Linked DNA regions of Homo sapiens. The protein of the gene in region 3 interacts with the protein of the main gene of each other region in a pairwise test. Each region holds a gene or a part of one and is shown on either strand. Other genes may lie near its edges.

Region 1 (6,845 bases), on a different chromosome or scaffold from region 3:
ACTGGGGCCCTGACCTCGCCTGGATCACTGCAGACAGCAGCACTTTCCTTTGTGAGACCAGCACACACAGCAGAAACCCTGGCCACAGCAGCTTCACCTTCCAACCCTACCCTGACTCCTTTCTCAACAACCCCAGCCAGGGATGGGCCCCCAAAAGGGTCCCTGCTGGCTGCCAACATGGGGCAGGGAAAAGGGGAGACCCTGGGAGGCAGGAGACCAGAGTTTGAATCCTGACTCAGCCACTGCGCGCTGTGTGGCTTTTGGTAGGTCTCTACCCCTAGGGGGGCCTCTGTGTCTGCAATTATAAGGTGGGCACGTGTCCCTGTTGGATGCCATATAGAAAAGAAGGTGACAATGAGCACAGAAGCGTTTTGTAAAGGCAGATGTGGGTTTGATATGGACAGCCTTTTTTACGGAGTGCTTACTGTGTGCCGAACCCGTGTTATCTCGGTCAGTCCCCGGGACAATCTGCCTTATTTGGTACTTTCATTATGCCCATTTCACAGAAGAGGAAAGTGAAGGCACAGAGAGGTCAGAGCCAGCCCAGGCCAGCCAGCTCTGGGCCTGTGTGCTTTCTTCTCCTGCTGTCCAGCCTTGACCTTGGCCTGAGGCCCCCTGGCCTGACTTCCTCTTTGTAGGTTGGGGTGGGAATGGGAGAGTCGCACTGTGCTCAGCTGGGTTGGATATCGGAGACCTGGGTCTTTTTCTTTTCCCCACATTGGGCCCCATCCTTTCCTGACCTATCGACAGTGATCCCTCTCGCCACCCCAGTTCCCCGCCTCTACCCAGGCCACGTTATCTGACCTGGAGGACAGTGCTGGTGGCCAGAAATATGACTGCCTGTCCCAGAGCCTCCTGCCCTGGCAAGCCCCAGATGCCCACCACATCTTGTTCACCACTGGCCCCAGCACCTAGCTGGGCCTGGCTAGGTAGAGCTTGGCACATCATGGGTTCTCAGTCAATAACTGGTGACTCAATGGTGGTTCCAATGGATCGGAACAGAAGGTAGGGTACGGAGGAGATAGGGAAACCAAGGCAAGGAGAGAGAAGTAAGGAGGCAGATAGAAGTAACAGACAAAGAGAGAGGTGGAGACAGAGACACAGAGAGGCACAGGGGACATGGACAGTGAAGGAGCGAGAGACGGAGAGACAGAGGTCAAGTTGGGGTGATCAAGCCTCAGGACGGAGGAACAGACGCCAGAAATCACAGGGCCCAATCCTCCCATTTCACAAATGGAGAAACCGAGGCCCAGGTGGAACAAATGACTTCAACATAGTCACATGGCGGGAACTCACAGTACAGCTGGGGTCAGAAGGAGCCTGGGGAGCTGCTCAGCTAGGTCACCTGCAGTCGGCTCCCCAGTCCCAGGCAGGGTATATTGCGGGGGCATCTGGATAGGCTCCTGTCTCTTCTTTTTCGGGGTTCTAGGCTCCCCGTGGAGCCCAGCTCTGTCTTGAACTCTCCCTGGCCTGGAGCCAGCTTTGCCTCTGTCCCTCCACCACCCAGCACCCCCTCGCTTCCTAGCCTCTCCTTGGCCTTTCATCCTGGGCCAAGACTTGGTGGGTGGGGTGTGGGCAGGAACTGCAAGATGGGGTAGCCACTGGAACTGGGGCCAAGACGCCTGTGGTGAGGGCCCACCCACCAGTCTAGGCTTCAAAGCCAGGTCATCTGGGGCAGTTCCGTGCCCCCCCTAAAGCCCCAGGAATGGGCTGTCTGCCAGAGGGTGGGGGCAGAGAAGGGGGATGGCCCACCATGTTGGTGGCTCCACTCTGAGCATTTATTATTATTATTGTATCCTTCATTATATCTTTTTCTTTTTTGCCCTGTCTTATGGAGCCAATTTATTTTCTTTTCTTTTTTTCTTTTCTTTTTTTTTTTTTGCATTGTCCTGTACTCCTCAGTATAAGGATGAAGTCTCTGGGATTAACCCCAATTACGGATAAGGAAACTGAAGCAACTCCCTTTCCTTCCTCTCTCTCAGCCACTTTCTCATAAAAATGGAAATGTAAGATAAAATTGGAACTCACATCTTCTTTACTCATGAACCCAGGCTCTTAAAAACTATGCACCCCTGCTTTTTGATCAACAATTAATAATAATCATCTTTCTTATTAGCAATGGTGATGATGAAGATGATGGAAATACCACAATATTTTTTATGTTGCAGGAGCAATTCCAGCTGCTGTTCATGTGCTATTCACATTTATCCTCACAATCCCCCTGTTTCTTAGACTAATCCCAACTTACCTTGTTACACCCATTTTACACACAAGTAAACTGAGGCTCAGAGTGCGTAAGTAACATGCTTAAAAGTTACCCAGCCAGCACCAGTGGGATGCAAACCCAGGCAGTCTGGCTGTAGAGGGTGCATTGTTAACCTTTCATTTTCATGCCAACCCTTCATCAAAGTCATGCATTCCTTTTTTTTTTTTTTTTTTTTTTTTTTGAGACGGGGTCTTGCTCTGTCACCCAGGGTCAAGAGAAATGGCATGATCTTGGCTCACTGAAACCCCTGCCTCCAGGTTCAAGCAATTCTCCTGCCTCAGCCTCCCTAGTAGCTGGGATTACAGGCGCCCGCGCTACTCCCGGCTAATTTTTGTGTTTTTAGTAGAGACGGGGTTTCACCATGTTGGCCAGCCTGGTCTTGAACTCCTGACCTCAGGTGATCCACCCACCTCGGCCTCCCAAAGTGCTGAGATTACAGGCGTGAGCCATTGCGCCCAGCCTAAAGTCATGCGTTTGATAGAGCTGCATTTCACCCTCTTAAAAGGAAACTGGTGTGGCCACTTTACAGGTCATGAGCAGGACTCAGGTGTCCTCCAGGTCACACGGATGGTAAGAAAGAAGCAGGGCTGGATTTCATCTCAGATGATCTGGTTTCCAGTCATGCTGTTTTCCTATGCTTGTTACACCCATTTTACACACAAGTATGTATGTATGAGGGACCTCTTAGGTCCCTCATACGCCAATTCAGAGGGCAGGGTTTCGGGACAAGAGGCACACAGCAAATTGTACAAGTCCTGGATATTTGGCAAGTGTGCCACAGTTTGCAAAGCATGTTTGCAACTAACAGCTCCTCTATGCTGCCCACAGTGCCATCCGGATTCATCTTCAGGCTTTGTGGACCCAGCAGGCCCTGGCCTAGCCCTCTTCTCCTGCCTCACTTCCCTTCAGGTCCCCTGAGCTCCAGGCCAATTGGGCTACCAGCTCTTTCTTGTACATGTGCCCCAAGTTCCCACCTCTGAACTTTTTCTTAGAATGCCTCTCCTTCCATCTCACTCTGTACATATCTTCCTCATCCTTCAGAGTCTAGTTCAAATGCCTCCTCTAACGGCAAGCCTATCTGGATTGCTTCAACTGGAAGAGAAAGGGGAAAGAGAGAAGGAAAGGAATAGGCATTTCCTGAATGTTTACTCTGTACCAGGCATGTTATGTAACCTCACAACAACTCTGTGATATGGTTTGTTTCTGCCCCATTTTATAGGCAGAAATTGAGGGGAAATGACTCGCTGGAGCTCACATAGCTAGGAAGGATGCTTCTGGACTCCTCATCTAGTGCTCATTCTCCTGCTCTAGTCAGGAACCTTGTGGGGCTGATGAGGGCCAATATTCCACCTCTCTCCTTCTTCGTGGCTGATCCCTGGGGGTGGTGATCTGGTCCTTTCCCTCCCTGCTAAAGCCAGAGCTGCTGACGGCTTGCCATTGGCTCTTCAGCCAGGGCTGGCTTTTGTTTCTGTGGCCCAGTTGCTGAGTCGGGGCTTTGTCTCCCAGGGGCCCCTCTTCCCTCCCTGCCTATAAGAGCCCGACCTCGGCTGGTCTCAGATCTGACATGTTCCCTGGGCCTATCTCGGTAAGTCCCAGGTTTGGAGGAGGGGTGGGATCAGAGTTCTGAGTGAGCATTCTGGGAGGCGAGGAACCCAGGTCCCCAGTCCTAGGGATGTCACTGTGTCATCCTGAATGCCATCCTCATCCTAACCAAGGATGAGCCCCAACCATCAAGACCAGCACCTGCTTCCCTCATTTAAAAACAAATTATTCCTGTAGCCCTATTGCCTAAATTTCCACCATCAGAGCTACCTCTTTGAGCTAGGTGCTGTCTTTGGAAGGGCTCTCTTATGCTGAGCATTTCAGCACTCGCTGGGGTGATGCACCCACCCACCAGCAGCCACAAAAATTTTCCCATAACAAGCAGATAAGAGAATACAGAGTGGGGCTCAGAGTCAATGAGACCCAGCAAGGGTGAGTTTTGAGATGGGGATAGGATGGAAGATGGCATTGGTGACAGATGGAAAGGACAGGAGAGGGACAGGCCAAAGCCATGCATTGCCCCTAGCCCAGTCACTCCTGGACTCCCTATGTGGATCCTGACCAGGTCCAAGCCAGCCATCTGCATAAAGAGGAGAGCAGAGGGTCAGGGTGGAAGATTATAATGTTCTTCTCTTCTGCAGGAAGGGGCCACAATGACCCTGCAATGCACAAAGTCAGCGGGACCCTGGAAGGTAGGAAGAGGCATGGGGAGGGGGTGTTCAGGGGGTATGGGGAGGGTTCAGGTCCCCATGAATCCTAGGAGGGGGGCATTATAAATGCCTATTTCACAGAGGTGCAATCAAGGCTCAGAGTTGAGAAGGGACTTGTATGTCACATACAGGGAGGTTGAATGTGAATTTGGGTCTTCTGGTTCCCAAAGTTGACCTGTTACACTCTTTGGCAGAGGTTGCAGTCTTTGGGCATGATTTCTTTGACCATCTCTGTGTGTGTTTGTTTGTTTTATAAAGCTTTTGGATTTATCATCAGCCTTTAAAAGCCTGGAAGAACCACATAAAAGTCCAGATCTAGTGATTGTCTTGAGAAATTGGAAGGTCTGGCCTGCATTCCCACTTGGCAACCATTGGTGGCACTGGGAAGAGGCCACCCATTTACCTGGCACCTGTGCTGTCTAGTGTCTCACATTTATCACTGCTCTTGCCTTCCTGGCTCCTGGAGGAATCTGAGTTTGCAATCCCTGCTTTACCTGCCAGATCCTGGGGCGAGCCCCCAACCTCTCACCCTTCACGGGACTCTGATGCGGATCTCCACCTTTTTTTTTTCCTGGCACAGATGGTGGTGTGGGATGAGGACGGCTTCCAGGGCCGGCGGCACGAGTTCACGGCCGAGTGCCCCAGCGTGCTGGAGCTTGGCTTCGAGACTGTGCGATCTTTGAAAGTGCTGAGTGGAGCGTGAGTCTAGGGGGACACTGAGTTGGGGTAGAGGGTGGACAGGAAGGGACCTAGAGACGGGTGCTAGGACTTTTAGATATTCTAGGTCCCCTCTCCCTAGGCTCTTACTGTTGTGCCCTCCTGAAGTACTGAGGAGTGTGCAGGACTGCCATGTAAGATTATGCAGGTTGCGCACTGCCCAACAGTAGGAGGGTGCCATTTACACAGACCCTGCCCACTGGATGAGGCAGTTCTGCAGGAGATCCTTAGAATCCAGTGTTGGATCTAAAAATGTCCCTCCCAGCCGTAAATTGAAAGCCAACATCACCCGCCTAAAGTAGAAGGTAACTGTAAAAATAAACATAATGTTTTAATGCTATTAATTTTTAGCTAAATAGTCTTGCTGCTAAGCATGTGGCCTGATCATTTTTTGTAAAAAAAAAAAAAATTAAAAAACAAAAAAGAGAGTGAGAGAGAGAGATTAGTGAGACACAGAGAGGTGTTAAGGACACACTAATAACACACCAAGACTTTCTAGACCAGTGTCATTCAGTGGACCTGTCTGCAATGATGGAGATGTTCTACATCTACACCATCCATTTCAGAGCCACTGGCCAGATGTGACCATTGAGGATTTGAAAGGTAGCCAGCATGAGTAGAGAACTGAATCTTGTTTAATCTTAATTTATTTAAGTTTAAATTTAATTAGCTACATATGGCCAGTGGCTACCATATTAGATAGAAGGTTCTAGAAGGTTGGAAAGCAGGTAGAAAGGAGATGTGGCCAGTAGCTACCATATTGGATAGAAGGCTCTAGAAGTTTGGAAAGTAGTTGGAAAGATGTGGCCAGTAGCTACCATATTGGATAGAAGTTTCTAGAAGGCAGGAAAGTAAATAGAAAGGAGGTGTGGCCAGTAGCTACCATACTGGATAAAAGTTCTAGAAGTTTGGAAAGTAGATCGAAAGGAGATGTGGCCAGTAGCTTCCATATTGGATAGAAGGTTCTAGAAGGTTGGAAAGTAGCTAGAAAGGCAATGTGGCCAGTAGCTACCATATTGGATAGAAGGTTCTAGAAAGTTGGAAAGTAGATAGACAGGAGATGTGGCCAGTAGCTACCATATTGGATAGAAGGTTGTAGAAGTTTGGAAAGTAGATAGGAGATTTGGAGTCACTTAATGCTACACCTGTGAGTGCCACCTGAGGTCATCTTGGGTGATTTTTGCACATCTCATGCTTTAGTAAATACTCTTTTAGCTTCTGATTTGTGCAGGTGGGGAATGGGGGTCAGATGGGAACAGAGGCTTTCTAGGGGTATGTCCAGCAGGCTGACAGACTCAGCCAGTAAGCAGACAATGAGCTTGGATAGATTCAGACAGTTTATTACTTATACAGACAGTAAAGGCAAGGTGCAGCCTCCTGTGTCCCTTGTCCTACTGGACGACACCAAAACAAAGGGGGCTGAATGACAGGCATTAGGAATGGTAGGAACCCCGTGGCTGAAGAGCTGCTTCCATGCTTCAACGATAGCTTGCTGCTGTCGCCTGTGGGGAGGCGAGGTGGAAAGCCCCACATCTCAGAGTGGCCAGAGAGGCAGATGAGGGGCTGCCTCGTGGCAGCCTCCCACAAGAGAGGGAGGAAAATGAGAGATG
Region 2 (7,027 bases), on a different chromosome or scaffold from region 3:
AATGAGAGGCTGTTGGCAGGCTGTCACTAACATGCCCTGCTTGCCTGTTTGCAGGTATGGATCCTGGCGGGAGCCAGTCAACCCCTATTATGTCAATGCCGGCTATGCCCTGGCCCCAGCCACCAGTGCCAACGACAGCGAGCAGCAGAGCCTGTCCAGCGATGCAGACACCCTGTCCCTCACGGACAGCAGCGTGTAAGTCCCGCCCCGGATACCCAGTCCCTCACGGACAGCAGTGTGTAAGTCCGGTCCCAGACACCTTGTCCCTTGAGGACAGCAATGTGTAAGTCCTGCCCCAGACACCCTGTTTCTTGCGGATGGCAGCGTGTAAGTCCCACCCTGCTGCAGAGCGCGGCCAGCTCAGAGGGGGCTTCGTGCTGACCCAGAGATGCCTGGGCTTTGTCTTCAGGAAAAGTGTTTCCTGGCTCCCCAGGTCTCAGTGAGAGTGCGTCTGGACATGCAGGCAGGCTGTACCGCAGAGGCTGTCCTCCAAGCAGTACAAGTGAGGGCTCAGCTTTGTGTCGGTTGCTTCTCTCTGTGACCAGGGCTGCTGGGACCTCCCTATGAGGAAGGATCGAGGGTGAACCTAAGACAGTCTGTAGGCTGCCCGGGCTAGAGTTTGCTCTTTGGTTTTCAGAGTCTGGGGTTTCAGCTTAAAGACAGGCACAGGCCAGCTGCCTCACCACTGGCTGTGGCGAGTGATGTGGTCCCTGAGGGTGGCGTTTCTGCCGACGCTGGTGCAGTACAGGGTCCTGTCTTGTCCCTGTCACCCACTTGGCAAGGGGCTGGGAGCAGGAGTGAGGGAAGATGCTGTGGTTGTGCTGAGGCCTGGGCCACACATGTGTGACGCTCGAGGTGACAGGCAGAAGCTTATTCTTTCATTGTCCAGGGAAACCCCATGTGTAGGAACGTGCTTGTTTTATGACCTCTTCCCCTGTGCTTCGCAGCTGGCTTTTTGGGACCTATGTACACCCCAGCCATTAGATGATGCCAACAGTCTTGTTGCAGTAGGGCACTGGCTGCCAGCCTGTGGGGGTCATTTGGGGTTTTGGTTACCCATGAAGCTCAGACCTTCCCAGCTCTGGTCTGTGCGCCACACGCCACCTGCCCACCAGCCATCCTAGCCAGGGCTGGGGCCGAGCCGCAGGAACCAGGGTCTCCCTGCAGCAGCCTCAGCATTGGAGGAAGCCAGCGGCTATGAACTTGTGAGCAGCTGGAGCCCGCGGACCACCACCCTCCATCCCCACTGCGGCCAGTGGTGTCCCAGATGTCTTTCCCGCTTAGCTGGGTTCTCCATGAGGAAAGCCTGGAGATCTGGATAGGGCTGGAGGAGGAGAGAGGGACTTCTCACCTACTGGTGATTCTGCCCATCTTTTTATGAATATGTTTTAAGTGATGGTCCCACTGTATGTACCATTTTTATGGTTCTTTTCATTTTGAGACAGGATCTCACTGTCACCCAGGCTGGACTGCAATGGTGCGATCTTGGCTTACTGTAGCTTCTGTCTCCTGGTCCCAAGCAATTCTGCCTCAGCCTTCAGAGTTGCTGAGGCTACAAGCGTGCGCCACCACGCCTGGCTAATGATTATTATAATTTTTGTGGAGACGAGGCCTCACTATGCAGTCTCGAACTCCGAGGCTCAAACGGTGCACCCACTTCAGCCTCATGAGTGCTGGGATTACGGGCATGAGCCACTGCATCCGGCTGATGATGATGATTATTTTTGTGGAGACGAGGCCTCACTATGCAGTCTCCAACTCCTGGGCGCAAACTGCACCCACTTCAGCCTCACGAGTGCTGGGATTATGGGCATGAGCCACTGTGCCTGGCTGGTTTGTTCTTTTCATTTGCCTGTCTTTAAACATTTTTCCAAAACCTGAATTTCAGATGAGGAGAACAAGTTGTCACATTCTGTTTCTGAACCAGATTCAGCCAGCCCACATTGCCGTAGGTCTTGGCCCCTTGGTTTTTCCCCAGGTAGCTGTGGTAGTGCAGGGGCAGCTCCCTGCCCCTTCCGGGCAGAGCTGCTGTGTGTGGCTTCTCCTGGTTTCTTTCATCCTCGTTTAATTTTGAATCTTCAAAATAAAATGTTGACGTGATTTTAGCAGCACCTGACTTGAGGTTACTGGAGTTGAAGCAGTGCCTGCCGTGGTCCTGAAGCCTCGGGCCAGGTGGTTGGGTGCAGTGCAGCCCACGGAGCGCCTGACATGCATCCTAGCATCTGGTTTCCCTCTTCCCCAAAACTCTGTTACTACAACAAAAAGTAACCTGCCAACTCAGTTTTCTCAAAAAGTCTCCTAATTCTCTCCAAGAAAAGGGACATATGTTTCCTAAAGGGAGGACCTAAAATAAATAGGTATTTTTTTTCTTGATATTCTGTTCATCTTGGTTTGTACTGAAGTGTTTAACAATTTGGAATGTGAAATTGCTACACGTACTCGAAAGCAAATCAGAGGTAAAAAGTGGACAGGTGAAGAGCATCATTCCGGTGGGGCAGCTGCCCTCAGCTTTTGTGCTGGCGGCAAGCTCACAACATTCCACATGGCACTCGAGAGGCTGTGGGCTGTGGACACAGATGTGGGGTCAGTGTCTAATCCACGGAGGCCTGTGGAGGTTACCCAATCCAAGTATCATGTCTAAGAAACCAGTAGGTTGGTGGCTTCAGGACACTTCAACAAACCCCGAGGCAAGTGTTAGGTGAGTTTTAGATTCACTTGTTCCTGACGCCCACCGTGGCTGAGCCAGACCTGGACTCGGCTCACCATTGCCCACAACACTCAGTGGTGCTGTGACAGCCGAGGATGCCTCAGGAGTTGCCGTGTCTGCCACGCAGCCCTGGGTCGGGCGCTCTCTTCAGTCGTCCTGTGTCTCCTGGCAGCTCTGAGAGGCCCCTGGGTGCGGCACGGATCCCTGGAGCTGCCGTGCTTCCGAAGGCAGCTTTTCTTTCTTTCTTCCTTTTCTTTTTTGAGACGTAGTCTTGCTCTGTTGCCCAGACTGGAGTGCAGTGGCACAATCTCGCCTCACTGCAACCTCCGCCTCCCGGGTTCACGCCATTCTCCTGCCTCAGCCTCCCGAGTAGCTGGGACTACAGGCACTCGCCACCACACCTGGCTAATTTTTTGTATTTTTAGTAGAGACGGGGTTTCACCGTGTTAGCCAGGATGGTCTCGATCTCCTGACCTCGTGATCCGCCCGCCTCGGCCTCCCACAGTGCTGGGATGACAGGCATGAGCCACTGCGCCCAGCCCGAAGGCAGCTTTTCTAATAGCTGGGAGAGGGCGAGGGCTTTCATGAAGGATGGTTGTGCGTGAGTTATCTTAACCCTGGGGTAATTATTCAGACCATGTATAATCTGACTTTCGTGTTTTAATGATCTTCTAAAGGGTTCATAAAGAAAACCTGTTGCGGGCTGGGCGCGGTGGCGCATGCCTGTAATCCCAGCAGTTTGGGAGGCCGAGGCAGGCGGATCACGGGGTCAGGAGATTGAGACCATCGTGGTTAACACAGTGAAACCCCGTCTCTACTAAATAATACAAAAAATTAGCCGGGCGTGGTGGCGGGCACCTGTAGTCCCAGCTACTCGGGAGGCTGAGGCAGGAGAATGGCGTGAACCCGGGAGCGGCTTGCAGTGATCCGAGATCGCGCCACTACACTCCAGCCTGGGCGACAGAGCAAGACTCCGTCTCAAAAAGAAAAAAATAAAAGAAAACCTGTTGCTAAAGAGCTACCTTGTGCCTCCCTCAGAGACCACACTGCCCTGCCAGCTCCTGGAGAGAAGCAGAGTGTGCAGCCTTGGCATCTCCTATCTTTCCGTGGGGCACTGGTTGTCCTGGCTGCCCACTGTGCAATCCTGAAATGTTTTTGGTCCATTTAGCAATGCCCTCCAAGGCAGGCACACTGCACAGTGGTCTAGGCCACAAGCAGGGGCCAGCAAACGTTTCCCGTGCAGGGCTGGCAGTGAATATGTGAGGCTTTGCAGCCGCATGCAGTCCCTGTCACAGATTCTTCCCCCACCCTTTAAAAATGTAGAAACCTTGGCCGGGCGCCGTGGCTTGCGCCTGTAATTACTCCCAGCACTTTGCGAGGCCGAGGCGGGCGGATCACGAGGTCAGGAGATCGAGACTCTCCTGGCTAACACAGTGAAACCCCGTGTCTACTAAAAATACAAAAAAATTAGCTGGGCGTGGTGGCGGGCACCTGTAGTCCCAGCTACTCAGGAGGCTGAGGCAGGAGAATAGCGTGAACCCGGGAGGTGGAGCTTGCAGTGAGCCGAGATTGTGCCACTGCACTCCAGCCTGGGCGACAGAGCGAGACTCCATCTCAAAAAAAAGAAGAAAAAAAAATGTAGAAACCACTCTTAGCTGTCAGGCCCTAAAGAACAGGCAGGCACAAGGAGGCTTTGTGGAGGTGCCCAGTAAATACCAGCTAGGAAGACGCGTGGCTGGGCACCTGGGCTTTACCATCACGTGTGAACCTTTGTGTGTACATGTTCCCCTGTGCACACATGGGTGCCTGCATCACCTGTGTGCACGTGTCTCAGTGGTGGTGGCTCACAGGTGTCCTCATCATTGCCTGCTGACCGGCGGTCGGGGCCAGGAGCTCTATTGGCACGGTGCTGGCCCTCCTGCTCCTCTCTGAGTTAACGGCTGCCTCTTTCTCCTGGACAGGGATGGGATCCCCCCATACAGGATCCGTAAGCAGCACCGCAGGGAGATGCAGGAGAGCGTGCAGGTCAATGGGCGGGTGCCCCTACCTCACATTCCCGTAAGTACCGGCTTTGCGGTCCTCAGCCCATCGTCCTCCCCGCTCAGCGTGGGCCTGGTGAACTGGTCCGCGGGAAAGGCACTTGCCTGGCCTCCCACGAGCCAGGCTTACCTCTAGGCGTAAGCGTGTGATCCCAGCAACATCTGCAAGTGGCCAGTCCCTGAGGGCAGCAGGGGACATCAAGTCTCAGGCAGCATTTAGGGCCCAGAGGGAGCTGTTCATTCAGAAGAGCCCCCATGCCCCAAGGCCACACCCTCCCTGGTGGCAGGAAGTGTCTTGCCTTGTGAAGGTGGATGCTTCCCCTCAAGAGGGGGAGCTCTGAGCCTTTCTCAAGACTCAGAGCCCAGGCCTGGCCCCTGCACAGCCCTTGGGGAAAACTTGGTGTTTTTGTGGCTGAACAGTGGTCGTCTCCAGGTAAACGTCTTGACTTTAAAGCTGCCTTGGCTTTCGCTGTTGCATAGAATAATGGCACCTTTGCCCAGTCTCGGGCATGGGGGCTTGGCTGGGCAGTAGGTCATGGAGCTGAGTGCTAGCTGGAGCCCAGCACAGCCTGACTCCGTCTACAGAGCATTCCTGCGCTGATGAACAGATTAATGATCTTTCCTTATTTTGATGGGTTGACTTTGAACAGGAAAGATGTTACGGGAAGATGAGAAAAGTGTTTTCTTTTTTTTTTTTTGAGATAGGAGTTTTGCTGTCACTGCAAGCTCTGCCTCCCGGGTTCACGTCATTCTCCTGCCTCAGCCTCCCGAGTAGCTGGGAGTACAGGCGCCTGCCACCACGCCCGGCTAATTTTTTGTATTTTTAGTAGAGATGGGGTTTCACCGTATTAGCCAGGATGGTCTCGATCTCCTGACCTCGTGATCCGCCCGTTTCAGCCTCCCAAAGTGCTGGGATTACAGGTGTGAGCCACTGCGCAACGCACTGTTAGCCGCGGTGTCTGAGGTTAAACCACGTGACCATCTGAGTGTCTGTGCAGGGAAGTAGGCATTTTGAGAGCACTGACACAGTCTTGGTCAGGATTTCTTAGCCTTTTAGCTTTTCTGCAGACATCAGTTTCCAAGTCAGGAATTTCTTTATGGTTGAAAAGAAAGGATGTTGGTTTGTTATCACTTCTGAGAAGATGCCAGCCAACCCTTGACTCAGGTTTGGCTAAAACTAGGCACTGATGGTGTCTACTTAACAAAAAGTGGCTGACACTGTAGGCTGTGTGTGGGTGCGTGCGTGTGTGCGTGCTTGTGCTGTGGAAGATCTGGGGCCCTGCCTGCCAGGCATGGCCCAAGGCTATCATGAGGTCACAGCCCAAGTCGAGGGCACCTGCACAGCCACCGGCCTCTGATTTTCAAGTCACAGGTCCTGAACGTCAAGAACCCGCGGAGCCGCTGGGATGACGGAGGCCCGAGAGACAAGACAGCTGAGCAACCACAGGCCCGGAACAGCCCTCTGTGCCCATGAGGACGGGGCTTGAGTGGGCTGAGGCCCGCGGGAGGCTTCTGTCCACAGGGGTGCCCCGATTTTGGGGTGCTGGTCAGAGTCTTCGTGTGTAGAAAGTGCATGCCACAGACTCTGGATGAGGGGGCATCAGGCAGACAACCTCCCCTCAGAAGGGTCAGGAAGGACAGAAGCTGTGGAGTGCGTTGGTGCCTGGAACGTGGACCTGGAAAGACCTCTCAGGATGCAACACAGAGAAAAGAGGATGCCTATGGCGAGTCCCTGGTGTCGTCGTCAGAACCTTCCAGAACCGAGGGAAGCACAGAGCCCTCAGGTCCTGGAGGGTCACATTTGAGTCGCCAGGAAGATGAAAGCCAACAGAGGCGGCAGGCACAGACAGGAGCAGGCCCTGCTGCGTTCCGCACCCCCAGAGGGCCCTTGTGTGGTGGGGTGGGGGCCGCAGTGTGCGTTTCTGTGTGAACAGTCTGCAGCAAACAACCTCATCGGAGGCTCTGTAGGAACCTGCATCAGGTCCATGTGGCCTGTCAGGTGGGGCTGTGGTTGGAACCTTCGGTGGGAGGTCCCTCAGCCAGAGGCCCAAGTGAGAAACCCACATCACGGGCACAGCTGCCCGGGGCCTGCTCACTGCTGCTACTGGGAAACTGGACCCGAGGATGGTGGTGAGCAGAGGCGGGGGGAGGCCCAGGAAGCCGATAAGCTAGCAGGACGTGCCGTGGTTGCACTGCCCACTTCTGCTCTGTTGAGGGCCTTGGTTTTGCAAAAGCTATGCCGTTTCTCTGGTGAGTCCATGGCTCTGCAGCAGGGACAGCA
Region 3 (7,027 bases):
GAGGCTGAGGCAGGAGAATCACTTGAACCCGGGAGGCAGAGGTTACAGTGAGCCGAGATAGTACCACTGCACTCCAGCCTGGGCAACAGAGCAAGACCACCTCAAAAAAAAAAAAAAAAAAAAAAAAAGCTGACATGGTAGGTATCTATGGAATGGGTCACAAATTTGAGTATGCATTATAATCACCTGGAGATCATCCTAGGCCTACCGAATCAGAAACTCTAGGTGCCCAGGCATCTGTAATCTTTGAAGCTCTCCAGAAGATTCTGTCACCTCTTGCAGACCGAGGACCACTGAGCTACCATCATCTCTTTGTTCCTTTGTTTTCTCTTACACAAAACTTTATTGCTCAATGAAAAAAGGCTTAAGCAATACCCCCTTCCTTCCTTATTGGATCTGGTTTTCAGTACAGATTATATGCATGCCTGAAAAGAAAATTAGAAAGCAGAAGCAGATTTTTGGTAGTTGGTTGTCAATTTTCTTTTGAATTCTTCACCTCCATGCAAATTGAAGCAGGACTTATTTTTAGCAACTTGATGAATGCAATTTACCAAAGTTTATTACATTATCTTTTATTACAATAAGACAGGAAGGTCAGTGGAATTGTCTGATTTTTCTTTCTCATTTACCATAGTTCTCTTTCTAGGAACTCATAGTACAGAATCAAGCTATGGGATATATAGGTTATTTTGATTCTCTATTTGTGCCCACTTCTATATTTTTGTATAACTTCAGTAGTGTATACACTTTTAACCTTTTTGGAGACATTCTTAGGAATAGCAGTCTCTTCGTTGACTTTCTGTTGTAGTTTTCCTAATGTTTGCTCCCTGGTGACCAGGAGACCTTCTATGTCAGTGGAGACAACTCATCCAAGGCTGGCTGAGCCAAGAGAGGTGGGCAGGAAGGCCAGGTGAAGGCCCCCTTCCCTCCTTTACCACACCTCAATAGAGAATCTTTATGTCTCCTGTACCCTTTCTTTTTCTCTTATTAGCACATTATGGACTTGCGCCTTCACATGAGCTTGGGCCCTTACCTGATTTATAATTTGCTATCTATGACTTTATGGTTGTTCAATCTTGAGAAGGAATGACTGTCCCTGGACATCTTCCAAAACCATTTTCTATATGATTGAATTGTACTTGACTCTTCTTATTGTGATGAGATGATTTCCCCCAATAGCTTTTTAATGGCTGTAGGAGAGCAATACAGAGCACAGGACCTGTCTAGGATAAGCAGGATACATACAAATGATCCCTAGTGTCCCAGGGCGTGGTACAGTCCCTTATCTACCCATTTCCTTCCATTGAAGTGCCTTGTAAGGCTTGGCCAACATGTAAGGAAGGAAGGCATCTCTCACCTATTCTTGCCTTGTTCATCAAAATGCATCCATTCCATCTCATCCACTTGTTGCATGGTAGACTATATTGGGTACTAACTTAAGCAGATGGGTACAGCTCAACTCTACGCAAACTAGCTAATGTGCTTTCCCCAGGTAGCATAAAATGTTAACTTGATTGCCATGCATAGACTTTTAAAAGTTGCTAAGGAGTTAGTCCTTTAAACGAATAGTATTTATTGTTTTATGGGGGTTTTTAAATTATGAAATGTGTGTGGACATTATAAAAATTTTGGAAAATACAGAAAAGCAAAAGGAAGCAATTTAAACCATGTATAATTCCACAACTCAAAGAAAACTATAATTAACACTTTGATGTGTATTACTCAAGTTTCTGTTTCAGAATGCTGCACATTCTCTTTCTCCATAACTACTTTTTATGCCTAACAGAGTATATATGCTTTTCATGCCATTAGATAGCCTTCTAAACTCTGTGACTTATGTAGAAGCCAGGACCTCATTATTGTGCATTTAACTTATTTCTGAATTTCTGCAAAAACAAGGTGGTGATGAAAATATTTTGAGCAATGAGTTTCATACACTTTTGCATTATATCTTTAGAATAAATGCACATATGTCAAAACAAATGCACACTTGAAAAGCTTTTGATACATATTACTAAACTGACTTCCAGAAAGATTCTATCAATTACCAATTTTTTAAAATAATGAATAGACTTTGTTTGCAAAATCATTAAGTTGCAAAAACAAAGACACCACAGGAGTTTTAAATTAGACTTTTTTTTAATCTAGAAAAAAAATTTAATGTACTTGCTTAGTTCAGCAGAAGCTGAGAGAGGTCTCAAGACCCTGAACAATAATACTGATTTTATTATTTTATCTTATTTTATGTTTTTAAGTTCCGGGGTACACGTGCAAGATGCGCAGGTTTGTTACAGAGGTAAACATGTGCCATGGTGGTTTGCTGCACAGATCATCCCATCACCTAGGTTTTAAGCTCAGCATGCATCAGCTCTTTTCCCTAATGCTCTCCCCTCCCCCGCACTTCCCCGACAGGCCCCACTGTGCATTATTCCCCTCCCTGTGTCCAGGTGTTCTCATTGTTCACCTCCCACTTATAAGTGAGAACATGCAGTGTTTGGTTTTCTGTTCCTGCATTAGTTTGCTGAGGATAATGGCTTCCAGCTTCATCCATGTCCCTGCAAAGAACATGATCTCATTCCTCTTTATGGCTGTATAGTACAGTCTAACATTGATGGGCATTTGGGTTGGTTCCGTGTCTTTGCTATTGTGAATAGGGCTGCAGTGAACATTGACATGCATGTGTCTTTATAATAGAATGATTTATATTCCTTTGGGTATATACCCAGTAATGGGATCGCTGGCTCAAATGGTGTTTCCAGTTCTAAATCTTTGAGGAATTGCCACACTGTCTTCCACAATGGTTGAACTAATTCACATTCCCACCAACAGTGTAAAAGCATTCCTATTTCTTCACAACCACCATCAGCATCTGTTGTTTCTTGACATTTTAATAGTCACCATTCTGACTGGCATGAGATGGAATTACCAGTATGTTTTGAGAGTTCCCAGAATCCTTACCCATTTGAAAAAGTATTGTTTTTAAAAAATTCCTGCTAACTTTATGGGCAAGAAAATTCTCAGCAGTTTAATTTGCATTTCCTTGTTTAATACAGAAGTCTTTTGTGACTATATTTTTATACTTTTGCTAAAGATTATTTAGTGCATTGGTTAAGTGGTGCTATTCTAACGCCTGAGTGTTCACTTACTGATGACCTTGAGTAAATTCCTTGATCTCCCTATGCTCACACCAACTCTGATAATGGCAGTACCTACTCATAGAATCTGTATGAAGACTAAAGAGGGTATCACATGAAAGATGCCTAGAAAATATCAGGCATATATAACATACGTTTATGTTCTCTGTCATTTACATCTTCTCTGAATTGCTTCACTGTCTTTGGGTAAGTAGATTTTTTGGTAGCTTAGAAATATATATATTAAGTATCTTAACCTCTTGTCTGTCATATATTATAATTTCTCCCCAGTTGGTGGTTTGTCTTTCAATTTTGTTCAAAGTGAGGAAACAGTTGAATATCAAGAAATTCAGACCAGGTGAAGGCATAGTTTTGGTCCAGGGTGGATCTTTTTTCTGCCTGTCAACCATACTGCTAGGAGAATCACCTTCCCCATCCGTGAGAAGGTCTGGTATTGATTATAGCCACCAGATATCAGAAATGGCACTTTAAGCAGCTTACATTGTTACATTAAAAATCACCATCATAGAATAAAACTTCTGCTTAATTTATGTAAATAATGATCATGGTAGATGAAAGGCCGTGGTTAATATTTCACCATTTTCCATTTACCACCAAATCCAACTTGTCAGCATTCCATTAGTGGTGATATAAAATTAATTACTTCAACTTGAAAGAAGCTTTTAATTTGAGACCAAGAACCCTGATAGATTGCGTAACCATTAAGTGTTACTACTTTTCCCCTCTTTGCTGCAAATTGTGTAGTAGAAAAAGAATCTTTCTCATCATGAAGTCTTGTGTATAAACACAAGATATTCCCTATATTAGCATATATACATGCTACTAAAAATGAAAGTTTTTCACTTCACTGAAAAGCAATATGAACATAGAGACTATTACTTTGCCTTACTAAGCAGAGGAATTACCAGAACCATCCTTGTAAAAACATGAACATTCTGCTTGAGCTGCCAACTTGTTTCAAAAAGCTATTAAAAGTGGGCAAACATTGCTGCTACATGATGAATGAATGGGAGTGTGTTGTAGTATTGCTACTAGGCCACGTATGATTGGAATTTTCCACATAAAAGCATTTTAAAAAGCAGTGTTATTTACGATGCTTATCATTAGGGAATGATATTGAGAAGAGGAGTAAGGAAACCTCAACTTCTAAATTTTACACTTAGATTTCTGTATTTTGTTGTCATTTTACTTCAAGCATGTTTTACTTTTACAACATCTTCAAGAGAAAAAAATTTAAATCATGATTTGCATGGTAACTGTTTTAAGAGTTGTTAGTGTGTACAGGAGGGGATGCTTCCCAGTGCCGAAATAGACACAAAATAGGCAACATTTAGATGTTGGCCCCAAAGCCTTGTAGATTATCCTCAATTAAAAATACTTAAGTTTGCAAGTCTTTCTTCTTCTTTTTTCTTTTTTTTTTTTTCTGTGTCTGTTTTAATTTGCAATGATTGGAAAACATAAAGCAATGAAAAGAGATGGTTTCCCAATGCAATCTAAAATTTTCACACACCAGGGCCTGTTGTGGGGTGGGGGGAGGGGGGAGGGATAGCATTAGGAGATATACCTAATGTAAATGATGAGTTAATGGGTGCAGCACACCAACATGGCACAGGTATACATATGTAACAAACCTGCACGTTGTGCACATGTACCCTAGAACTTAAAGTATAATAAAATATATATAAATAAATAAATAAATAAATAAAATTTTAAATTGCTCATTGAGTTCTGCGCGGCTATGATATTGAACTGCAGGTGCCTATAGGCCTTAAAACACAACTGTTTCATGTTGTTCAGTCATCTTATTTCTTTCCTTGTAAGCAAAATGTCAGAACATTTAGCTCCTTTAGTGCACTTATTGCCCACACCGAGGAATACAAAATTGGGACTGCTGAGTAAAATGTTTAAGTTTCAATCCCTTGAAGGCAAATATTTGACTCTCAATAGAGAAATTTAACTTCATTATCTCTACTTGCAGGCAAAATGAAAGACCGGCTAGCAGAACTTCTGGACTTGTCCAAGCAATATGACCAGCAGTTCCCAGACGGGGACGATGAGTTTGACTCGCCCCACGAGGACATCGTGTTCGAGACGGACCACATCCTGGAGTCCCTGTACCGAGACATCCGGGACATTCAGGATGAAAACCAGCTGCTGGTGGCCGACGTGAAGCGGCTGGGAAAGCAGAACGCCCGCTTCCTCACGTCCATGCGGCGCCTCAGCAGCATCAAGCGCGACACCAACTCCATCGCCAAGGCCATCAAGGCCCGGGGCGAGGTCATCCACTGCAAGCTGCGCGCCATGAAGGAGCTGAGCGAGGCGGCTGAGGCCCAGCACGGCCCGCACTCGGCAGTGGCGCGCATTTCGCGGGCGCAGTACAACGCGCTCACCCTCACCTTCCAGCGCGCCATGCACGACTACAACCAGGCCGAGATGAAGCAGCGCGACAACTGCAAGATCCGCATCCAGCGCCAGCTGGAGATCATGGGCAAGGAAGTCTCGGGCGACCAGATCGAGGACATGTTCGAGCAGGGTAAGTGGGACGTGTTTTCCGAGAACTTGCTGGCCGACGTGAAGGGCGCGCGGGCCGCCCTCAACGAGATCGAGAGCCGCCACCGCGAACTGCTGCGCCTGGAGAGCCGCATCCGCGACGTACACGAGCTCTTCTTGCAGATGGCGGTGCTGGTGGAGAAGCAGGCCGACACCCTGAACGTCATCGAGCTCAACGTACAAAAGACGGTCGACTACACCGGCCAGGCCAAGGCGCAGGTGCGGAAGGCCGTGCAGTACGAGGAGAAGAACCCCTGCCGGACCCTCTGCTGCTTCTGCTGTCCCTGCCTCAAGTAGCAGGCCGGCCCGGGCCGCCACCGCCCATCCCAGACCATGGAGCGCGCTGGGAAGGACGCACCAAAGCCGGGAGCTCTGCCCTGCAGGGAGTTGCCCCAACCCTTTCCGGAACTCAGTCTTTAGAAAAGAAACGCCAGGTTCAAGAATTGCAAACCAGCCTGTGCTTGGAAAGATGGTTAGTTGATACCGTCCGATGATTCTTCAGTAAAGATAGATTCCCACAAAGTTGTGCAATGTCATTATATGACACCTTGCACTCTTACCGTCTTGACAGAAGCCAAGTAAGGAACTGAAGTTGTATCTGACTGTAGGGTGAATGTCTGAGGCCTGCCTCCTAATAAAGACTCAAGGAGGAAGTCAATTGGGCATCTGCTAATAGAATGAACTCATGATGGAAACTTCAGTTCATTTACTTTGTCCTGAAAATTCCCTGGTTCTGTTCCATTTTGAGCGAAATTGGCCTTGGGAAAAACCACGTTCTTCCTTTCCGATTCTTCATCCGGTCTACGCTATGCAATTCCTCCCCAAATATAGATCTTATTTCTGCTCATTTCCCCTACTTATTAAAATCACACCAAACACTTACTATTTTCTTATCTCTTTCACTTTTTAAATATCTTTCACCAGGTTATATTTTGGTATTATTTTTCCAAACATTTTTAAGCACTGAATATCGAACAAGCACTCAAATTGAAGTATCAGTCATGTTTTGTGTATTTTTCGCTGATAAAAATTATTTAACATTTATATTTTTACTTGATTACATATGCACATGTATGTAAATGTAAAATACTAATATTCACTAATATATGTACATAATGATCAATTGGTTTAACTTCTTTTATGTAAGTATGGTATATAAATTTCAAGACGAACACTTTTCTGGCTCTTGGTATTGGTTTGCTTGTTTTGAGTTTGTTTCACTCCAGTTTGCCCCTTCCTAGTCCAGTTTGGGTCAAACTTCATGTTAAACAACTCTGCATTGGTTATGGCGGTAGACATATGGCGGTAGAAAATGTATACGG
Region 4 (7,114 bases), on a different chromosome or scaffold from region 3:
GGTGAGGCCTGGGCGCCCCAGCTCCCTATTCGCCCTTGGCACCAGGGGCCGCCGTCCCCTTTCTTCAGGGCCCCAAGGGGAAACTAGAGCCCAGGATTGGCAGCGTGGAATCAGGGGACCCCAGTGGACTCTTACCAAAGATTTGATGGTGTTCTTCAGTTGACTGACTTTTACGGACCTCGAGTCTGGGACTACTGCTAGTTCTTGGCACGGGCTCTGAGGCGCATGCAGAGAGGAGGAGGTGGAGGAGGAGTGGGGGGAGAGGTAGAGAGAGCAATCATTAGGGCTGGGGTGTGTGTGGACTGTCTCAGCTGGCAGAGGGGCACCCCGTCCCACCTGGAGGAGGAGGTTGGAGGGCTGGCCTGCAGGGTCACTGCACCTCTGCCCAGAGCCTCTTACCTCCAGATCCTTCAGGGTAGCAGATGATGTAGGGCTCTCCCCGTGGATACCTGTTGCTGACTACAAGAGATGAGAGTGCACATGAAGATGTTCTGTCCCACTCAGTATCTAAGCCCTCTGACTTCTTTTCTTCCCCATCAACTGGCACAATTTTCTTTTCTGCCTATCTTGGACCCTTTGTCCCATAACTCCTTTGTGCCAACTTCTCTCATGGTTCTTATCTCCCCACCACAGCACCCTGTGGCCCTTTCAGTGACTCCTGTGCCAAGTGACTGTTCTCATTGTCCTGGCTTCCCCTTGAGACTGGGGATGAGGAAAATCGAACAGCAATGACCATATCCTGGGTGTTCTGGGTGTTTACAGCAGGCCATGTACTAGGGATTAACATAAAAACAACAATAACAAATCTCATTTAAACTTCACAAATGGAAGTGAAACAATACCACCTCTATTATACAGATGTGAAAAGAGAGGCCCGATGAGGTCTAGCAACTTGCCCTAATTCATATCCCTAGCAGACAAAGAGGCAGGATTCAAACCCAGAATTCTTCACAGGTACCCAACAGTCCATCCACAATCTTAACAATTACCCTCTAGTGCCCCTTGGGTCCCCTGTCCCCAGGAACCTAGTCAGCCAAGACTCACATCTCCAGGTGAGTGGCAACCACCAGAAGTGGCTGTCTCATGGATGCTGCCATTTGTTTTCCTGTTCCTCTTGGCTCCTGCTGGAACACCAGGGCTGTTTCTCTGCCAATATTCTTTTAACTGTCAGAAACAAGAGCAGTAATACTCATGAGAACTATCAGCCCCTGCAGCCACATCCTCCTTTACAGTTTTTATAAAATACTCTTATACACCATCTGATTTAATGATACCAACAACTGTACAAGGTGTTGTCACAATCATTTAGTGACTCAAAGAGATTGATATCATGGCTAGAAAAAAAAAGAAGAAAAGAAAAAGGCGACAGACGAACTTTGAAACTCAGTCTTCTGACTCCAAACTCTGGGGTTTTACCAAGAATCAGCAGCTGCCAGGGACCAAAACCAGAGGCAGAGGTAGAAAAGTAAACATTAAGTAGGCAGGAACTGTATGCCATGTGGTTTAGTCATACATCCTCACACGTCTGTTAGTGTGAAGAAGTGCACCAGTACCTCTCAAACTCTTATATCAATGTGTCCTCATGGCAGAAGGCAGCCTTTCTGTTAAATCTGGGAATTTATCAGAAAGAGGACAACCCAAGCCTCATTTCAGAGAGAAGTCTGGTATACTCTTAGAAACCTATGTGACTGTCATCCCTAAGTACATTAATGTTTTTTCTCTTGATCTCAAGAGAATCAATGGAAACTGATGCTTCAGAAAGATGTCCCATATGTATCCTGTGGCACTCAAAGTACCCCAGGTTTACATAATATGAGGAAGATTCAAGCTGTCAAGTTCAGTTTCCCAAGATCTATTCCAGAGAAGATGAGCAAATCTCACTTCACAGACCACTGGCTGAAGGGCAGTCTGGTCCCAGAACCATGGAGAATTAGAATGTGAGGTGGAGAACTCACAAAAAATTTGTTAAAATCTCTCTGGAAAGTAGAAGCCTGGGAGAAAACCAAACCAAGTCAAACCCATTCTCCAGTTGCCATCCAGAGGTACTGTCAATGTTTTGAGCTCACAGGGGAAGTGTAGGCTTTTCCCGCTGTCAATGTTTATGCTAAGGGAGTGAGGCAGCCTGAAACCTCTTGCTCCTAGGTCCCAATCTCCATTCCCCTTCCAGCTGGAAATTTGTGCTGTGACAAGAGGAACCAGAAATGGGGTGGCAATGCTTAGGGGACTGGGTCATAAGATCAAAGGCCAGTCTTGCAGTAATGACAGTTACTGGATGGACCGTGACATCACTACATTCCACTCTTCCTGGTGAGGGGGAGGGACCACATCAGCATGATGTCCGAGTCACCGCTCCATGATAGGGGAGGGAAAAACAGAGCTGGGACCCAGGTCCTTGGAGACACCAGTGCACACAGCCTAGGGAGGTCCACCTTGAGGCAGCAGGAGGGAAGGGAAGAGTCAGCAGCAGGGAGCCCCAGGATTCACCAGCCTAAAGTCACCCAGGGATGACTGGTGAGGGTGGGGTCTGGGGCTGTGGGACCCAGGTCCTTGGAGATGTGAGCCCAAAAAGCCCTGGGAGGTCAAGCTTGGGGTGGCAGGAGATGAGGGCCCAGTAAAGGAGCGGGGAGCCCCAGGATTCACCTGCCCAAAGTCACCCTGGGGTGATTGGTGAGGGCAGAGACTGGGCTGCTTGCTGAAGGGGTGGGGCTGACTGACAAAACTTTGGTGGGGGTAGCCCAGAGGCACCGGTGTGGGGGTCCCAGTCCGGTGAACCTCGGGAGTGGTATGGACTCTGGCAGCAGTCTTGTCGTTGGAGAGGATCTATGGCTGGGTTGGGGGTCCGTGACCTGGTGTGTTTTTACCTTTCTCTTGGCTGCTGCCAATTTACTTTGTCGAGTTTCTTCTGCCATCGCAGGGTGGGGAGGGAGGCGGGCTTGGGGCCACATCAGCAAAATCCCACCAAGCACTGATCAACACCTCCAGTCACCTACCAGGTAGCTGTGCGACTGAGCCAGAGGAGGCGTAACCAGGGATGCAGTAGAAGGCAGAATAGGGGCGTGGCCTTAATGCTCCAAGCCCATTGGTTAATGAGAAAGATGAAAGGGAAAGGGGGCGTGGCCAGGCATCATGTGTCCAGAGGGACCTTTGGCTCACAAGGAAAGCTGCCCATGCAACCACTGTCCCCACCCACTCTAAGAGAGGGGAGAGGCCGCCAACTCTGGGAGAGGGGCAGGGCCGGCTTTTGCTTTAAAAGCTTTTAAAAAATATATATGTGTATACTTTATATATATGTGTGTCTGTGTGTGTGTACCTGTGTGTTCCTCCAGAGCTGTCTTCATGATCCAGCTTCTATGCAAGGTCTATGATTTTGGCCTATATTTTTCATAGAGTACAAAAATTACCAGTATTACCTTAACCGAGATACAGATCCTATGAAGATGGAAAATCCATAGCATGCTTGATGATTACTGAAGCAGACTATATTATCCAACATTCCAATAAGATAAAATAATCACAATGACTTCTCTTTTTTGGAAAAATGTTTCTCTTATTCTCCTACGTTATTGTGAAGACTTTTTTTCTTAAACAAGAAACATGTGTAATATTTGTAAAAACACAAAGCTTTTGGGCCGGGTGCAGTGGCTTATGCGTATAATTCCAGCACTTTAGGAGCCTGAGGCTGGCGGATCATGAGGTCAGGAGATTGAGACCATCCTGACTAAAAAGGTGAAACCACATCTCTACTAAAAATACAAAAAATTAGCCAGGCGTGGTGGTGGGTGCCTGTAGTCCCAGCTACTTGGGAAGCTGAGGCAGGAGAATGGCGTGAACCCAGGAGGTGGAGCTTGCAGTGAGCTCAGATCGTGCCACTGCACTCGAGCCTGGGCTACAGAGCGAGACTCCTTCTCAAAATAAATAAATAAATAAATAAATAAAACTTCTATTTCTTTCACTTTCTAATATAATTTTAATATCTCCTCCTGGGATTTCACTAAGACACATTTTGGACCTCATTCTGATCTTCCTCTCCCCTCCAAGCCCACCAACTTCTGCCCTATCATCCATCCTCATGTCTCTCTGTGTGACATGCTGACTTACTTTTTGGAGAGAATCGCCTAAACAATTAATTCTTTCTTCTCGTGTCTAATCCATCCACTAGTTTCTTATTTCAACAATTACATTTTTATTTCCTTATTTCATTTTATTCTGAGACTGAGTCTCATTCTGTCACACAGGCTGAATTGCAGTGGTACGAACCTGCAGACTCGGCCTCCTGGGCTCAAGTGATCCTCCCACCTCAGCCTCTTGAGTAGCTGGGACTATAGGCAGGTGCCCCATACCCAGCTAATACCATACCCACACAGCAGAGACATAAAAGATTTCCATCCTCAAAGAAGGTTCCATTGAACAGCACTGCTCTAATTCAATAAAAAATACCACTGAGCACAACATAGTAATAGAAAAGATTGAAGAGGCAGTGCTGATACTTAAAAACCTGGTATTTTCAGCCAGGCATGGTGGCTCATGCCTGTAATCCTGGCACTTTGGGAGGCTGAGGTGGGAAGATCGCTTAAGCCCAGGAGTTCTAGACCAGCTTGGGCAACATGGTGAAACCCTGTCTCTACAAAAAATACAAAAAATTAGCTGGGCATGGTGGCATGTGCCTGTAGTCCCAGCTACTTGGGAGGCTGAGGTGGGAGATCACCCGAGCCTGGGAGGTCAAGGCTGCAATGAGGTGAGATGGCACCACCACACTCCAGCCTGGGTGACAGAGTGAGACCCTGTCTCAAAAACAAAAAACAAAAAACAAAACAAAAACACCTGATATTTATTTTTAAGTACACTATTTTCAAACATTCAGAAGTTATTTCATCCTACCTTCATGGTTTCCATTCTATGCCTGGTTTAGAATTGGGATCTGATAAAATAAACGTGTTCAACAGAACCACTTCTCATGGCTGTATAACAGATGATCAATATGTATTTGCTGAGGAAATTATACAATTTTCTTAATTTTTTTTTAACAAAAATTGTGGTTTCAAGGGACCAAACTTGAATACTACACCTTCATGTTCTAAGAATCAGGGGACTTATATAAAACCTCAGTTGCCTGATAAGGACTACATCAAAGTGAAAAGCCATGGGAAAGAACTAGAAAGTATACTTTTGACCCTAGTTCTGTAAAGTTTCCTTATGCCACAGGTAATACACATCGCAATTCCTGCCAAATTCTTTCCCTCACCTCTGTTTATGGTCTCGATTCCATAAATAGGAGAAGGGCATGAATTTGCTTTAGTTAGATAGACAGATAGATGGATAGAGAGATAGATGGATGGATGGATGGATGGATAGATAGATAGACAGAGATAAAGACAGAGACAAAGATGGAGACAGAGATGGACATAGAGACAGATTTGCAGAAGATAAGTTCTAGGTGAACTAGTGTCAACATTAAAGTGGTATGCCTACATCTAACTATTCTGGAGAGAAAAACATACCTCAAAGAAATTGACTTAAATATATACAGAGAAAAAGTTTAAGCTGAAAGCTACTGCCTTTTTATATGAGACACTTTAGGAAATTACTTGGGGGGCAAGAGAGAAAATGGGTGGACATAGCTCAGAGGTTACACAGTAGCAGATATGTAGGATGAACAAGCCTAGAAATATAATGTACAACGCGAGAAATATAGGTAATAAAATTGTGCTGTATTTGGGATTCACGCTAAATGAGATTTTAAGCTCCTCTTGCCACCAAACAAAAAGAAAACGGGTAACTATCTGAGTTGAAGGATACGTTAATTTGCTTCACTGTAGTAATTTTTTTTAACCATCTATATGCATCCCATAAAATCATGTTGTATACCTTAAATACACAGAATACAATTTATTTAACATAAAAAACTACTCCAATATTTTCTGCATTTTTAATATGCTCACCCAAAGAAAGCATTAATTTGCATCTTTGATGTTAAACAGATAGCCTAATCAAGTCACTATCAAGATCAAGACTAAAAGTTACAGCTTTTTTCTTTTGATGCCTTTCAGATATATCTATTTATATATAAAAATATATATACACACACACATACATACACACACACACACACATATATATGTAGTTATGTGTGTGTGTATATATAGTTACAGTTTTGGCCAGGTGCAATGGCTGACACCTGTAATCTCAGCCCTTTGGGAGACCAAGGCTGAAGGCTTGCTTGAGGCCAGGAGTTTGAGACCAGCCTGGGCAACGAAGCAAGACCCTATCTCTACAATTTTTTTTTTTTAACAAAATTAGCCAGGGATGATGGCATGCACTTGTAGTCCCAGATACTTGGGAGGCTGAGGCGGAGGATCCCTTGAGCCCAGGAGTTCAAAGCTGCAATGGGCTGTTACTGTGCCACTGGATCCCAGTCTGAGCAACAGAGCAAGACTTTGTCTCAAAAACAAAATTTATAATTAAAGATAAATAGTTATAGTTTTATGAACCTTGACTGCAACTGAGGGAAAATCCCGTAATTGGCAAAATGAATTCTGCCTGCTTGCAAAACTTCTGACTAATACGGAATGAATAATAGGAAGCCCATATTAGAGGATCCACATCAGTTAAAAAGTTTCCAAATAAGAGTGACTCTGAGTTCTGCAGAGTGAAAAGATTGGGTTCAAACCAAACACTTGAAGATCTTGAGTAAGATACTTAATCCCTCTGTGACTCACTGTTCTCAAATGTAAGTGAAGATAATTTGTAACTCAAAAAAAATGAAAAAGTTTTCTCTAAGATTGCAAATCCTAAGGATAATTTCATTTTAATATCAGTTATTTAGTCTGGATACACCATAATGCAGACTAATTTTCCCTCTGCTTAAAGACCACACAAAAACATTACCAATAAAATTTACTTGTGTATCAACTTTTACTCCTGAGACTTCATCGTTTGTTTGGTTAAAAAAAAAAAAAAAAAAAAAAGCGCACTAGACCGGGCACAGTGGCCCATGTCTGTGATCTCACTTACGGAGGCCAAGGCAGGTGGATGAGTTTGAGAACAACCTGGGCAACATGGAAAAACCCCGTCTCTACAAAAAAAAAATATAAAAATTAGTCAGGTGTGGTGGCAC

The links.
Region 1: the proteins of STX11 (region 3) and CRYBA4 interact in binary tests that used the Homo sapiens proteins (3 or more experiments, as listed by UniProt).
Region 2: the proteins of STX11 (region 3) and AXIN1 interact in binary tests that used the Homo sapiens proteins (3 or more experiments, as listed by UniProt).
Region 4: the proteins of STX11 (region 3) and GOLGA8F interact in binary tests that used the Homo sapiens proteins (3 or more experiments, as listed by UniProt).

The regions. Positions count from the first base shown.
Region 1 is NC_000022.11:26,618,136-26,624,980, forward strand, and holds the start of CRYBA4 (beta-crystallin A4), read left to right. Parts: upstream 1-3,827; 5' UTR 3,828-3,851; intron 3,852-4,449; coding exon of another isoform or gene 4,450-4,461; coding exon 4,462-4,500; intron 4,501-5,098; coding exon 5,099-5,217; intron 5,218-6,845. UniProt on the Homo sapiens protein: Crystallins are the dominant structural components of the vertebrate eye lens.
Region 2 is NC_000016.10:307,711-314,737, reverse strand, and holds part of AXIN1 (axin-1), read left to right. Parts: intron 1-54; coding exon 55-195; intron 196-4,668; coding exon 4,669-4,765; intron 4,766-6,112; exon of another isoform or gene 6,113-7,027. UniProt on the Homo sapiens protein: Component of the beta-catenin destruction complex required for regulating CTNNB1 levels through phosphorylation and ubiquitination, and modulating Wnt-signaling.
Region 3 is NC_000006.12:144,181,490-144,188,516, forward strand, and holds part of STX11 (syntaxin-11), read left to right. Parts: intron 1-5,133; coding exon of another isoform or gene 5,134-5,138; coding exon 5,139-6,002; 3' UTR 6,003-7,027. UniProt on the Homo sapiens protein: SNARE that acts to regulate protein transport between late endosomes and the trans-Golgi network.
Region 4 is NC_000015.10:28,374,557-28,381,670, reverse strand, and holds the start of GOLGA8F (golgin subfamily A member 8F), read right to left. Parts: upstream 3,008-7,114; 5' UTR 2,910-3,007; coding exon 2,862-2,909; intron 1,165-2,861; coding exon 1,045-1,164; intron 460-1,044; coding exon 400-459; intron 217-399; coding exon 136-216; intron 1-135.